2 separate regions of the Homo sapiens genome follow, and region 1 is linked to region 2. Evidence: fine-mapped expression QTL. Tissue or cell type: stomach. Region 2 holds a variant in brackets; the other region holds the start of a gene. All regions are shown on one strand. Distances are from middle to middle.

Region 1 (8,106 bases), 880 kb after region 2:
TGAGTCAAGATGACATCACTACATTCCAGCCTGGACGACACAGAGAGACTCTGTCACAAAAGAAAAAAGAAAAAATGCTTACAAGAGCCAGAGCTGTCCAAAGATGATAGACTACGTGGGCTTGGGAGGTAGTGAGTTCCCCATCACTAGAAATGTGCAAGCATATGGTTTACTACTGCTTCATAATCAAAAGGCTTCAAGTATCTGATGAGGCAAGAGAAGGCATGAATCCTTCTATTTTACAATAGAAAAAATACTGTTCTAAAACATTCCTTTGTGTTAGGTCTATAAATTCTTGAAAAAGACATAAAAGGGAACAAGTCAACAAAGAACTCAGCACTGTTTTTAAAAATCAAAAGTTCCCTTCACAAAATTCACAAAGCACAAAATCTGTCTGACTAGGTGGACTTTTTGCATCCCACTGGCCAGATGATTCCCAGGGAGAAAGGTAATTGGCCTCGGGCACTGTTTTTGGTGACTGGTCAAATGTTCTTCAGAGGCATGCAACAAAGGCAACGGGATGAAAGTAAGAGGGTAAACAATGGAACTCCATCAAGAGGCTGCCAGTCCCCCCACAAAACTGCCATCTGCTGCTGACATCAATCCTTCAAGGGGCAGCTTCGGGCAAACAATGTGTCAGGGAACACAAGCCTGGGAGAAAATCGGCCTTGTGACCTTGGGCAAGTCATTTAACATTAACTGGGCCTCAGTTTCCTTGTCTCTGAAACTGAGTTCACACTAACCCTACTGTACATTGTGTGGGCCAAGAGTAAGTGATGTCTGGGAGTTAGCCATAGAAAATGCAGGGCCCTAGACACACATCAATAATTATGATGGTGATTAACACACAGAATTTTAAAAGAAAAGATTCCAGAGGGTTTCAGGGACAGCCATATCCTGACCTGACCTTGTGGGTGTCAATTCTAAAGGAATAAGATGTAACTCCTTTAGCCAGAATGCAAGGAAATTTAGTATTTGGAAGAGACAAGATCATTTGGACACATTTCCTGATGAATGCCTGGTAATTGGTGTATTTCTGATAAAACTCAGGGTACTCGCTGCTTAGTTGTTAAAATAAAAGATGAAAGGTAAAAAGCAAAAGGATCAGCCAGGGCAATTAATGCCTAACTGGCCCTGAAGAAAAGTTCACTGGCCCAGTAGTAGCAATCCTTCCAAAATGAGATAAGCACATTTCCTACCAAGAAAATATCATAAAACCTGAACTGTCCAAAACTCAACATCCCCTTCTCTCTCAAGGCATTTTCATGGCAACCTTAATTTTTATAAAATAATAATAATTGGCCAAATTCATTTTATAAAACATAAACTCCCTAAAAAGAGTCTATTCAAAGATTGAAACTAGGCTTTTGTATTGAGCAGTTGGGTGAATTAAAATCTCTGACCAATAAAGCGCTTATTTCTAAATTTTCAGCAAGGCTGAGACATCGTAAGTCACTGTTTTCCACATTGAACTGAAAAACCAAAGACAGGAGACCAGGGAAGAGCAGGGTTTTCTGCTCCTCTTGCCCTAGGATATGCCCAGAGGTGATGAGCACGCTGGGCTTTTGACCAGGACTAAAAGGCAAAAAGACTGTTGGTGAGACTGGAAAAAAAACAGATCCCTCCCCCCGTGGCTGCTCCACTCCCAAAGTTTCCCAAGCATCTGAAGCGTGTATGGCAGCTGCGGTGCCCAGCCTTCCCGCTGCTTTTAAGGAGGCCACCCAGCTCCCTGGGTCATTGGGTCTTCAGTTGCAGCAGCGCCCAGAAGCAGGTGTGGCAACCTCAGGTTGCTTGAGCCCCAAATACCCAACTTGCTCAACAGCCTGTGCATAACCTCAAAGATAGGCCTCAAGGTCCGCTGAAGATGCATTTTGTCTTTACTCTTTCTAGGAGAGGCCACAACACACCCTGTGTCGCAGCAAGGAGAACCATGACCAGAAAGAAAGCGGACGCCAAGAGGCACGAGCCCAGGCTTCCCACAGGGCACATCCTCAGAGAAAGGAGGAGCCTGCTGGATGGAGCTTTTAGATTTTCCTTGCCAAAGCTGAGCCTAGAACGTGTAGGGGTGGGAGAAGCCCCAGTCTGGCCTGAATGAGGATGCGGCAAGCCCGCATTTAGCCATGCAATTGTGTTCCCTTTCCTATTTCGCCTGGCTAGCGTGGATTTAGGGAGCGGCTTCTGAAAGAAGTATACACCCGGTGGCACAGAAGGTGCAACCAGCAGCCAGAGGTCATCTCGCCCTCCCGGCAGGCTTCTCCTGGAACCCCGGAAGCCAGGCAGCGCTGACCAGCCCAAACGGCATGCCGAGGTGTTGGCTTTGAATGAAAGCTGATGAACCTAAACGCCAGGGCACAGAGTGATTGGGCTGCACACTGCGAGATAATACATTTTCTGCACCAAGCTCCCTTTTTATGCCCAAATGCCTGCATTAGTCTGGATCAATATGCCCCATAACAGTTAATCCATGGCAACCCAGGCCAGCCCAGAGACACCGACAAAGAAGTGCCGCCCAGGGATGCTGCCTCGCTGTGCACATGCATGTGAATTCCGGCCCAGAGAAAGAGGCGGAGGCAAAACCACCACCACCAACAGAAACCAAAAAGGGGGAGGAAAAAAAGAGCAGATGGTAAAAAAATACCCCAATATTAAAGGGCTTTTACCATGGCAGGGAAGGGGTGGAGGTAGTGACTATCAAAATGGCCTTAGAGTGACATGTCACCGCCAAGATGATGGGGTATCAGCGACACTCCTAAAGTCAGGCATAGGATCCTCCTCACACACCTGCAATGCAGAGACTGCTGCCCATTCCATAATCCACACTCCCAGCCCCAGCGCTATCTGCAGTTGAAACCAGTCCGGACTTGTGCGGCTGCCACTGTTACTCCTCACAAAAAGATTATTGATGCATAACATTTCATAATGGCAGAGAGGAAAACGGGGGGCAGCGGGGGATGGGAACCAGAACAAGAGAAAAACGAAAGGGGAGGAGAAGGAAAACTCTCCCAGCCCGCATCTCACCTTTTATTTGGGCTTCATATTCAGCAATGATCTCTTTGTCTTTCTTGAACTTAGTTTGAGATGACATCTTCTGACGTGGCCAAAGGAACTGACAGGCTGTTTGATTTATTTCTCCTTTTCTTTTCGAGTCCTCTCTCAAGCCCTGGTAATCACACAGCTCTGGTCGATTTCACAGGTTTAGGGACTAATCTCTTTCACTTGGCTGCAGAGCAGGGAGAAAAATCCTTCTCCTTCTGGAAGGAAAAATCTCTTTACTTGCCGAGAAATGGCTCTAGTAGCTTGCCCTGGTCAGCTCCTCTTGCAAAAGAAGAATCACCCTAGGAGCACAGTAACCTGCCCCAGATTTTCAAAGATTTTTCTTCCAAAAATAATAATAATAGTAATAACCAAGCGCACTCACACACACATGCACACGTACACACACTCACGCATGCACAGGCACACTCACCGGGACACGCACACAGTTGTGCTGTGCACACAGGCATACACACACACACCCTCACACGCACACACACTCGCTGGATCACTCACACACACACATCCACGAGAGGCGCGGCGCCTCTTTGGTCGTGCAGCCAGCCCCTGGCTTGCTTTTGAAGGCTCTGCTAAGTCGATGGTCAGGTTGCCAAAGGGCCGGTCATCTCGCATCCTCCCTCCCTTCGGTGCCTCTGGTCTGATGTCCAGTGAGGATCAAAGCCAGGAGAGCGAGATGGAAGTTTTCCTGCTGCAACGCTTAAGCTCCGGTGAACACAAGGCTGGACTGCTCGCCCTGCAGGGCTGGCTGAGCTCTCCCCCACTGCTCACGTCACTAGACTCCGCCTCCCGGATTTTATAACAACTGACACATTGTAGCCTACAGGAGAGCAGAACTCACTGCAAGCAAAAAGGGGAAGAAACGCTCACAAAAGGGAAGGCAGCAGGAAAAGTAATCGGGTTGGTAAGTCTTGAGAGGCTTCTGCAAACTCCAAACATTAGCACTTGGGTTAGGGATTTTTCTTCCAAAAACTTAAGATCCTCCCTTTTTTTGCACTGTGCAATTTAATTCAGTTTCTGGAATCAACAGCTATATGATGGTTTGTCACTCTACTGGGATAGTCTAGCAGAGGGCCTGACCCATGTAGGGAAAAGCATCAATATTTGTTGAGCAGTTACTTGGTGGCAGAGACGATGCGAGGAGTTAAAGGCATGCAGCTTAGCAAAGCCACGCAGAGCAGGCACACTGGAGGCAGAACAGCTGGGTGGGTCATTGGCTTGTGGGGCTCTGGGCAAATTCATAAGTCAGACTGAGCCTCAGTTTCCTAGATAGTAAAATCAGCTCTCTTTGGAGGCTATGTTATTCATTCTTTCAACAGATATTTACTGAATGCTTACTATAGGTCTAGCACCGTTCTGGGTACAGGGATACAGCAATGATCAGAACTGGCACACACAAAAATCCCTGACCTTCTGAAGCTCCCGGGGCTCCACATCACACAACTCCAGCAGTTTCCACCATTCATGCTAATATTCTTAGTAAAAAGCACCCCTGGAGTAGAAAGCATTGTGAATGGTGCCCCCTGGAGTTGTACGAGGCAAGAGGCCCTGGGAGAGGAAGACCAAAAATAAGCACAGTAAGTATATTATATAATATCATACAAAATGTAAAGTGCTATGGGAAAAAATATTGCAGGGTAAGGAACATCGGGAATGAGAGGAGCTCTTGAAAAGATCAAAGAAAAATGCAAAGCTAAGCTTAGCACAGTCTCTGGTGCATAGCAAGCACTCAATAAACAGTAGCAACTGTTATTACCCTTTTATATCCCCCAACAACCTAACAACATAGGTATAAGCACCACTCTTTCACAGACAAAGGAGCAGAGGCTCAGATATGGGAAGTGACTTACCCAAGGTCACCAGCCTTCCAACCCAGGCTCAAAGTCTCCTGCATTCTACAAGGGAGACCAAACCCATTTCATGTGGAATTAAGGTAGAATAAGATTCATTCTGTAAAAACTGAGTCAAGCACTAAAGAGTCGCTGATCACTGGAATTTCATATGCTAAGATTGTCACTAATGTGTATTGGCCCCTGACTGTCCCCTGAGATAAATGTTCCCAAATTTCTCAAAATAGGTATAGTCTTCCATTTGCCTTTTTCTGAGTCTATAATAAATGATTCTGTTTGGACTCAGAAATGAATAGGTTATCCATGCTAGTCCATCAAGGCTTCCTAGAGGACATGGCAGCTGCAGTGGGCGTCCCCAGGCAAGTATGGCAAAGGGAGTGAGGCGGGGCAGGATGTTCTCCTGGAGCACACAGCATGAGCTGGGGCCCACAGGTGGCAAAGCACAAGACCTGCTTGGAGCAACGACAGGGAGAAGTCCAACTGGTGAATCATGGGGCTTATTATAGCCTTGTACCCGGAGGCAGGAGGTCACCAGTTCAGAAATAGATGCCACTGGCCCGCAGCCCTTGCCATCACCCCACTGCCTCACGCCTCCCCTGGACATGTTCAGGCCCTTTGCTGTCCTCTTCTAACTAGTTCAAACCCACAAAAGCCCCACGTTACCTGAGAAAGATGGGCACAGAGATTAACATCCCTGCTGCAAGTCTAGATTCTTCAAGAAAAATGAAAGTTAAAACCATACACCTTGGAGTACGACAGACTGGATCCTCTCCTGGCTCTGCCACGAGCCTTGAGCTCATGAGAACTTGAGCAAGTGGCTCAACCTGCTTGTGTGCCCACTGGTGGCAGGAACTCAGTAAATGTCAGCTATTTTCACCATTATTAAAATTTTAAATCCACAAATAGTTCTAGGAGACCTATGTGTAGGGTGCTGAGCCATGGAAATGTCACAAAAATGTCACAAAAAGCCATACAAAACCAAGGCCAAAGATGGTATAGCGCTCTGAGCTGACACCTGGCAGAGGCTGGGTTTTGGAGTAAGTCAGATGGTGGTTTACCTTCTGGCTCTGCTGTGCACCAGCTGTGTGTGGGGCTCATGGAGGAATACACCTTCTCTGAGTCTTGGTTTCCTCATCTGTCATAGGGTAGTGATCCACCCATGGCACAGGATCCAACACGATCATGGATTTAAAGTGCCTGGCATAGAGCAGAAGTCTCACAGACATAATTTCTTTTTTAGAGCTGTGGAAATGTGTTCTTCAACGTTGGAGGTGGGATCTGGTGGGCAGTGTTTGGATCATGGGGATGGATCCCTCAGGAATGGCTTGGTGTCCACCCCACGGTAATGGGTTCACAAGAGATCTGGTTGATGAAGAGTCTGGGACCTCGCTCCTCTTCCTTGCTTCCTCACTCACCATGTGATATGCCTGCACCTTCCACCATGATTGGAAGCTTCCTGAGGCCTCATCAGAAGCCAAGCAGATGCTGGTGTTATGCTGGTATAGCCTGCAGAACCATGAGCCAAATAAAACTTTTTTTTTTCTCAAGATGGGGGTCTCACCATGTTGGGCAGGCTGGTCTCAAGCAATTCTCCCACCTCAGCCTCCCGAAGTACTGGGATTGCAGAGTGAGCCACCACACCCAACCAAATAAAACTTTTTTCTTTAATTACCCAGCCCCAGGTATTCCTTTACAGCAATGCAAAATGGACTAATACAGGGCCCAGCCAAGCCAGACCTAGGACTAGAGCTTGGTCTCCACAGATACCCAGATTGGGAAAAGGAAGAGAGGAAAAAAAAGAGGAAAAGGTCTGTGTCCCCTGAAAAATCCATCACCACACACAATAAACCCACATCATCTGGAATCTTCTATCCCCAAGAAGATGTGGGTGTGACCTGGGCAGGCCCCCAGCACCAGGTCCTCACCCTTCCAGTCCTCCCCACAGCCCACCCCAGCCCTCCCGCTGCCCTCCTGTGACTCCTCCTCTGTGAGCCCACTTTTTCCTTGCTGTCTGAGAACCAACTGCTATTCCCAATGTTTACCCTTCACATGGTAGTAACAGAAACCAGATTTGTCTCCAAATAAATGTGGTAGGTGTGAGGGGAGGGCCTCTACCATGTGATTTGATCTATGCCACCCACTAAGGACCAGAAAAGCCCCTGGAAGTGTTTATTCCATTTCCTTGGGGCTCATCTCCTGAATTCTTTTAGATTTTCCTAAATTATACTGATAGCTAGTATTTACCAAGTTCTCCCTGCACACAAGCACAGGGCCAAGCACTCTATGTAGATTTTATCACTGATTTTTTGCTACAGCCCCATGAGTCCAGTGATGTAAATCATCCTTGTTTTGAAGTTGGGTAAACGGAGGCCAAGAGCAGTGAAGCAAGTTACCCAAGATCACAAAGCTAGCTAGTAACTTAATTGCACTGAAGCCCAGGTATGGCTCATAGCGGAGCCCAAGGACTTAAACAGTGCACGATTCTATCCCGGAGGAATCAGCATAGGAATAATTGCTATCAAGTAATAACCCATTTTTTCATTCCCTATAATTACATTGTTTCAATACGGAGTTCAACGTAAAGTTTTCCATTTAAAAAAAGAATTTGGGGTTAAAAATATAAGGAAAACATGTCACAAGTGACCACTAGTGAGGCATAAATTACAATAACAGCTAAACAATGCAAAACTCACTGAACCGGTTTCTTTTCCTGGTAGAAAGAAAAAAGGCTTCATCTGAAGGAAAAGTGGCCAGAATAGTTTTTGGTTGAAAGTACTTTTATTTTTCTGGTCGAATATGAACACCTCCCCCTCGCCGAGATGACTAATTTTGTAACATTCTCCACGTTGCTACCAGCAAATACATCCTTGGGCAGCTCAGTGAATAATTCTGCCCTTCAAGCCCTGCTCTGCAAAATGAAAGCAACAAGCAGAACTCAGCTAGTTGATGGCAGATTTTAATAGAATTAATAGTGATGATGACAACATGCCTAATGTGTATATATTGCTTTATATTTTGTAAGGCTCTTTCATATCATTTGTCGTATGTGGTCCTCACAATAACCCTGGGAGGGGACGGAATGGCAAGTAGGGCTGTTTTCAATACCTGTTTCATTGGTAAGGAAATACGTGGATAAGCAGAGGTTTTGATGGTACAGTTGTTTTATAACCTCAAGTTATAAGGATGACCTTTCCAACTGTGTCAC
Region 2 (8,106 bases):
CGAAGTAGAAATCTCAAATAAGTCATGTTCCAACCTACTCACTTCCTCAGTTGTTCCAGTCAGGCAAAATGCAGAACCGTTCTCCTAAACTCTTAGTTAATTCTAGATTTCTAGATTTAAAAAAGAAAAAAAAAAGAAATGGGAGAGTCTACAAAGAGAAAACCAGTGGTGTAATGGGGTCATGTAGTCAATTAAAAGCAAATAAAATAACCAGTTTGGTTATTTGAAATCAAATCAGTGAAAACACCAAGATATAAAACCAAAATAAAATATTAGCAATATCAACAGCCTGGGAGATCAAACCTCTTAATAAAGCAAGTAATATTTATATTTCAACTTGGGATTTACTACTGCATGCGGAAGGTTCTTATTCATCACTCAAATGTGAAAAGCACAGGCTTTGGCCACTGGTTAATTATTGGATTGTCATAAACCACTTCATGCCTGGCTGTCTTTTTTCTAATAAGCTGACTTTGTTAGTACTTTTATTTTGTAACTGCAGCCACCTGACAAATGTCCTCTCATACCTGCTGTTTCACAACAGTCTACTGAGAGAGGGAAAAAATTCCTCTATGGATAGAGACTTCAAATACCTTACCATCTGCTCCCAAGACATAGAGCTTTAAAGCAGTAGGGGAGGAATACTGAACTGCCATTCTGATACCATATTAGGTTAGTAAGAGCCCTTAAGGAAATATATAACTTTTAAAAAACATATATAACTTCCTTTAAACATATATGCAGAGTTAACAACCTTATCTTAGATGCATTTTCAGTGAATCCTGAGAGAAGCGCTCTCTTCAGGCTGATTAGTAGTTATTTCTGAGATCCTGTAATTATCAAGATGACTAATTTAATGAGCACCATGACCAGTGTTCACATTCCTCATAGCCGGGTATGTGGCGAGGCTTGCCAAGAAAAAGAAAGGGGTGGTTTCACAGTCTCCTTACAGATAACATGAAGATCAGGATTTTTTTGCTACTTCTATCTTAGTCATATTTCATGAGCCAAAATAAAAATGGTATTTTTCTGACCCCTCTGGGTTCTCACAGCACTTCTGTCATCCAGCCATATCTGTGAGTACTCACTGTATGTCATGGTGTTGGCTGATCATGGTGTCAGTGACTCACCTCTCTGTGTGGCCACTCTTCAAGACTAGGAATCCCTTGAGAGCTGAGACAAGAGCTTGTTTATTGATAAGTCTCTTATCCCTGACATAACATCTGGCACATTTTAGGTTCTATTCAGGAAGTGTTTGTTGAGTTAGCTTACCCATGGCTCTGCTGGTATGGGGAAGCCCATGCAAGTTGAGGGCAATGCTACCAAACTGTGAAATCCTGAAGGATGCAAGCCATATTTCTCTTCTGTGTATCACCAATGCCTAGCACATAGTAGCTGCTAAATGAATGTTTGTGGAAAGAAGGAAAGACTTCCACTAGGGAGTGAAAAGTCCATTTGATAATATAAAAATCCAACTTCAACCAAATATGTTGTGGATCTAAATTAAGAGCCAACAAGCTTTTTCTGTCAAGGGCCAGTTAGAAAGTATTTTAAGGACTGCTGGCAAGAAGGCCGAATAAGAACAGCTCCAGTATGCGGCTCCCAGCGAGATTGATGCAGAAGGTGGGTGATTCCTGCATTTCCAACTGAGGTACCTAGTTTATCTCTTTGGGACTGGTTGGACAGCGGGTGCAGCCCAAGGAGGGAGAGCCGAAGCAGGGTGGGGCATCACCTCACCGAGGAAGCACAAGGGGTTGGGAACTCCCTCTCCCAGCCAAGGGAAGCCATTAGGGACAGTACTGTGCACTCCAGCCAAGATAACTGGGCTTTTCCCATGGTTTTCTCAACTCACAGACCAGGAGATCCCCTCCAGTGCCTACACCACCAGGGCCCTGGGTTTCCAGCACAAAACTGGGCAGCCTTTTGGGTAGACACCGAACTAGCTGCAGGAGCTTGGTGGGGGGAGGGGTGTCCGCCATTGCTGAGGCTTTAGTTCGCGGTTTTCCCCTCACAGTGTAAATAAAGCTGCAGGGAAGTTTGAACTGGGTGGAGCCCATGGCAGCTCAGCAAGGCTGCTGGGGCCAGACTGCCAGATTTCTCCTCTCTGGGCAGGGCATCTCTGAAAAAAAGGCAGCAGCCCGAGTCAGGGACTTATAGATAAAATTCCTATCTCCCTGGGACAGAGCACCAGGGGGAAGGGGCAGCTGTGGGTGCAGCTTCAGCACACTTAAACGTCCTTGCCTGACGGCTCTGAAGAGAACAGCAGACCTCCCAGCATAGTGTTCGAGCTCTGCTAAGGGTCAGACTGCCTCCTGAAGTGGGCCCCTGAAGCCCGTGTATCATGACTGGAAGACACCTCCCAGTAGGGGCTGACAGACACCTCATACAGGAGAGCTCTGGCTGGCATCTGAGAGGTGCCCCTCTGGGAGGAAGCTTCCAGAGGAAAGAACAGGGAGCAATCTTTGTTGTTCTGCAGCCTCTGCTGGTGATACCCAGGCAAATAGGGTCTGGAGTGGACCTCCAGCAAACTCCAGCAGACCTGCAGCAGAGAGGCCTGACAGTTAGAAGGAAAACTAACAAACAGAAAGGAAGAGCACATCCACTCAGAGACCCCCACCCAAAGGTCACCAACATCAAAGACCAAAGGTAGATAAATCCACAAAGACGGGGAGAAACCAGCTCAAAAAGGCTGAAAATTCCAAAAACCAGAACGCCTCTTCTCCTCCAAAGGATCACAACTCCTCACCAGCAAGGGAACAAAACTGCATGGAGAATGAGTTTGATGAATTGACAGAAGTAGGATTCAGAAGGTGGGTAGCAACAAACTCCTCCAAGCTAAAGGAGCATGTTCTAACCCAATGCAAGGAAGGTAAGAACCTTGAAAAAAGGTTAGACAAATTGCTAACCAGAATAACCATTTAGAGAAGAACATAAATGACCTAATGGAGCTGAAAAACACAGCACGAGAACTTGTGAAGCATACACAAGTAACAATAGCTGAATTGATCAAGCAGAAAAAAGGATATCAGAGATTGAAGATCAACTTAATGAAATAAAGTGAAAAGACAAGATTAGAGAAAAAAGAATAAAAGGAACAAACAAAGCCTCCAAGAAATATGGGACTATGTGAAAAGACCAAATCTACATTTGATTGGTGTACCTGAAAGTGATGGGGAGAATGGAACCAAGTTGGAAAACACTCTTCAGGATATTATCCAGGAGAACTTCCCCAACCTAGCAAGGCAGGCCAACATTCAAATTCAGGAAATACAGAGAACACCTCAAAGATACTCCTTGAGAAGAGCAACGCCAAGACACATAATCATCAGATTCACCAAGGGTGAAATGAAGGAAAACATGTTAAGGGCAGCCAGAGAAAAAGGTTGAGCTACCCACAAAGGGAAGCCCATCAGGCTAACAGTGGATCTCTCTGCAGAAACCCTACAAGCCAGAAAAGAGTGGGGGCTAACATTCAACATTCTTAAAGAAAAGAATTTTCAACCCAGAATTTCATAACCAGCCAAATTAAGCTTCATAAGCAAAGGAAAAATAAAATCCTTTACAGACAACCAAATGCTGAGAGATTTTGTCACCACCAGGCCTGCCTTACAAGAGCTCCTGAAGGAAGCACTAAATATGGAAAGAAGCAACCAGTACCAGCCACTGCAAAAACATACCAAATTGTAAAGACCATCGGCACTATGAAGAAACTGCATCAACTAATGGGCAAAATAACCAGCTAGCATCATAATGGCAGGATCAAATTCACACATAACAATAATAACCTTAAACGTAAATGGGCTAAATGCCCCAATTAAAAGATATAGCCTGGCAAATTGGATAAAGAGTCAAGATCCATCAGTGTGCTGTATTCAGGAGACCCATCTCTCGTGCAAAGACACACATAGGCT[C/T]AAAATACAGGGATGGAGGAAGGTTTACCAAGCAAATGGAAAGCAGAAAAAAAGCAGGAGTTGCAATCCTAATCTCTGATAAAACAGACTTTAAACCAACAAAGATCAAAACAGACAAAGAAGGCCATTACATAATGGGAAAGGGATCAATGCAACAATAAGAGCTAACTATCCTAAATATAAATGCACCCAAAACAGGAGCACCCAGATTCATAAAGCAAGTTCTTAGAGACCTACAAAGAGACTTAAACTCCCACACAATAATAGTGGAAGAGTTTAACCCCCCACTGTCAATATTAGACAGATCAACGAGACAGAAAATTAACAAGGATATTCAGGACGTGAACTCAGCTCTAGACCAGGCAGACCTAATAGACATCTACAGAACTCTCCACCCAAATCAACAGAATATACATTCTTCTCAGCACTTCATCACACTTATTCTAAAATTGACCACATAAATGGAAGTAAAACACTCCTTAGCAAATGCAAAAGAATGGAAATCATAACAAACGGTCTCTCAGACCACAGTATAATTAAATTAGAACTCAGGATTAAGAAACTCATTCAAAACCACACAACTACATGGGAACTAAACAACTTGCTCCTGAATGACTACTGGTAAATAACAAAATGAAGACAGAAATAAAGATGTTCTTTGAAACCAATGAGAACAAAGGCTACCAGAATCTCTGGGACATATTTAAAGCCGTGTGTAGAGGGACATTTATTGCATTAAATGCCCACAAGAGAAAGCAGGAAAGATCTAAAATCGACATCTTAACATCAAAATTAAACGAACTAGAGAAGCAAGAGGAAACAAATTCAAAAGCTAGCAGAAGACAAAAAATAACAAAGATCAGAGCAGAACTGAAGGAGATAGAGACAAGAAAAACCCTTAAAAAAATCAATGAATACAGGAGCTTTTTTTTAAAGATCTACAAAATACATAGACTGCTAGCCAGACTAATAAAGAAGAAAAGAGAGAAGAATCAAATAGATGCAATAAAAAATAATATAGGGGATATCACTACTGATCCCGCAGAAATACAAACTACCATCAGAGAATACTATAAACACCTCTAAGCAAATAAACTAGAAAATCTAGAAGAAATTGATAAATTCCTGGGAAAATACACTCTCTCAAGTCTAAACCAGGAAGAAGTCAAATCCCTGAATAGACCAGTAACAAGTTCTGAAATTGAGGCAGTAGTTAATAGCCTACCAACCAAAAAAAGTCCAGGAACAGACGGATTCACAGCCGAATTCTACCAGAGCTACAAGGAGTTGCTGGTATCATTTCTTCTAAAACTATTCCAAGCAATAGAAAAAGAGGGAATCCTCTCTAACTCATTTTATGAGGCCAGCATCATCCTGATACCAAAACCTGGCAGAGACACAACAAAAAAAGAAAATTTCAGGCCAATATCCCTGATGAACATCGATGCAAAAATCCTCAATAAAATACTGGAAAACCGAATCCAGCAGCACATCAAAAAGCTTATCCACCATGATCAAGTTGGCTTCACCCCTGGGATGCAAGGCTGGTTCAACATATGCAAATCAATAAATGTAATCCATCACATAAACAGAACCAATGACAAAAACCACATGATTATCTCAATAGATGCAGAAAAGGCTTTCGACAAAATTCAACACGACTTCATGCTAAAAACTCTCAATAAACTAGGTATCAATGGAACATATCTCAAAATAATAAGCTATTTATGACAAATCCACAGCTAATGTAACACTGAATGGGCAAAAAATTGGAAGCATTCCCTTTGAAAACCGGCGTAAGACAAGGATGCCCTCTCTCACCACTCCTGTTCAACACAGCATTGGAAGTCCTGGCCAGGGCAATCAGACAAGAGAAAGAAATAAAGGGTATTCAAATAGGAAGAGAGGAAGTCAAATTGTCTCTGTTTGCAGATGACATGATTGCATATTTAGAAAACCTCATCATCTCAGCCCCAAATCTTCTTAACTGATAAGCAACTTCAGCAGTCTCAGGATACAAAATAAATGTGGAAAAATCACAAGCGTTCCTATATACAAATAACAGACAAACAGAGAGCCAAATCATGAGTGAACTCCCATTCACAATTGCTGCTAAGAGAATAAAATACCAGGAATACAACTTACAAGGGATGTGAAGGACCTCTTCAAAGAGAACTACAAACCACTGATCAAGGAAATAACAGAGGACACAAATGGAAAAACATTCCACGCTCATGAATAGGAAGAATCAATATCATGAAAATGGCCATAATGCCCAAAGTAATTTATAGATCCAAAGCTATCCCCATCAAGCTACCATTGACTCTTTTCACAGAATTGGAAAAAAACTACTTTAAGCTTCACATCAAATCAAATCAAATAAAAAAGAGCCCGCATAGCCAAGACAATCCTAAGCAAAAAGAGCAAAGCTGGAGCCATCATGCTACCTGACTTCAAACAATACTACAAGGCTTCAGTAACCAAAACAGCATGGTACTGATACCAAAACAGATATATAGACCAATGGAACAGAACAGAGGCCTCAGAAATAACACCACACATTTACAACCCTCTGATCTTTGACAAACCTGACACAAACAAGCAATGGGGAAAGGATTCCCTATTTAATAAATGCTGCTGGAAAAACTGGCTAGCCACATGCAGAAAACTGAAAGTGGATCCCTTCCTCACACCTTATACAAAAATTAACACAAGATGGATTAAAGACTTAAACATAAGACCTAAAACCATAAAAGTCCTAGAAGAAAACCTAGGCGATACCATTCAGGACATAGCCATGGGCAAAGACTTCATGTCCAAAACACGAAAAGCAATGGCAACAAAAGCCAAAATTGACAGATGGGATCTAATTAAACTAAAGATCTTCTGTACAGCAAAAGAAACTATCATCAGAGTGTACAGGCAACCTACAGAATGGGAGAAAATTTTTGCAATCTATCCATCTGGCAAAGGGCTAATACCCAGAATCTACAAAGAACTTAAACAAATTTACAAGGAAAAAAAAAACAACCCCATCAAAAAGTGGGCAAAATACATGAACAGATACTTCTCAAAAGAAGACATTCATGCAGCCAAAAAACATATAAGAAAATGCTGATCATCACTGGTCATTAGAGAAATGCAAATCAAAACCACAATGAGATACCATCTCACACCAGTTAGAATGGTGATCATTAAAAAGTCAGGAAACAACAGATGCTGGAGAGGATGTGGAGAAATAGGAATGCTTTTACACTGTTGTGTAAAAACATTGGGAGTGTAAATTAGTTCAACCATTGTGGAAGACAGTGGGCAATTCCTCAAGGATCTAGAACTAGAAATACCATTTGACCCAGCAATCCCATTGCTGGGTATATACCCAAAGGATTATAAATCATTCTACTATAAAGACACATGCACATGTATGTTTATTGTGGTACTATTCACAATAGCAAAGACTTGGAACCAACCCAAATGTCCATCAATGATAGACTGGATAAAGAAAATGTGGCACATATATGCCACAGCATACTATGCAGCCATAAAAAAGGATGAGTTCATGTCCTTTGCAGGGACATGGATGAAGCTAGAAACCATCATTCTCAGCAAACTAACACAAGAACAGAAAATCAAACACCGCATGTTCTCACTCATAAGTGGGAGTTGAACAATGAGAACACATGGACACAGGGAGGGGAACATAACACACTGGGGCCTGTCAGGGGGTGGGGGCAGGGCGAGGGATAGCATTAGGAGAAATACCTAATGTAGGTGATGGGTTGATGGGTGCAGGAAACTACCATGGCATGTGTATACCTATGTAAGAAAACTGCACGTTCTGTACGTGTACCCCAGAACTTAAAGTATAATTTAAAAAAAAGAAAATATTTTAAGCTCATGGGCTCTATGGTGTCTGCTGGAATTGCTCACTTTTGTGGTTGCAGCATTGTGACAGTTAATACTGAGTGTCAACTTGATTGGATTGAAGGATACCAAGTATTGATCCTGGGTGTCTGTGAGGGTGTTATCAAAAGAGATTAACATTTGAGTCAGGGACTGGAGAAGGCAGATCCACCCTTAATCTGGGTGGGCACAATCTAATCAGCTGCCAGTGTGGCAGAATATAAGCAGGCAGAAAAATGTGAAAAGAGAGACTGGCCTAGTCTCCCAGTCTACATCTTTCTCCCATGCTCGA

What was found. PIP is the estimated chance that this variant, and not a neighbour inherited with it, causes the effect.
Region 1: SRGAP3-AS4 starts here. The variant in region 2 is fine-mapped to the expression of SRGAP3-AS4 in stomach (GTEx, PIP 0.99).

Annotation. Positions count from the first base shown.
Region 1 is chr3:9,245,867-9,253,972 of GRCh38, forward strand. SRGAP3-AS4 (SRGAP3 antisense RNA 4) reads left to right here and starts at 3,890. Exons shown (of 3, transcript NR_146969.1): 1 at 3,890-3,955. It overlaps SRGAP3 (SLIT-ROBO Rho GTPase activating protein 3), which reads right to left and starts at 3,780. Exons shown (of 22, transcript NM_014850.4): 1 at 3,019-3,780. The coding sequence starts at 3,085. RefSeq lists an enhancer at 3,559-3,798.
Region 2 is chr3:8,370,257-8,378,362 of GRCh38, forward strand. The region is part of intron 3 of LMCD1-AS1 (LMCD1 antisense RNA 1); the gene reads right to left. Among named protein-coding and RNA genes, the nearest start is that of LMCD1-AS1, 130 kb to the right of the region's middle. RefSeq lists enhancers at 1,498-2,030, 2,031-2,561. The variant C/T (reference allele first, on the strand shown) is at 3,912.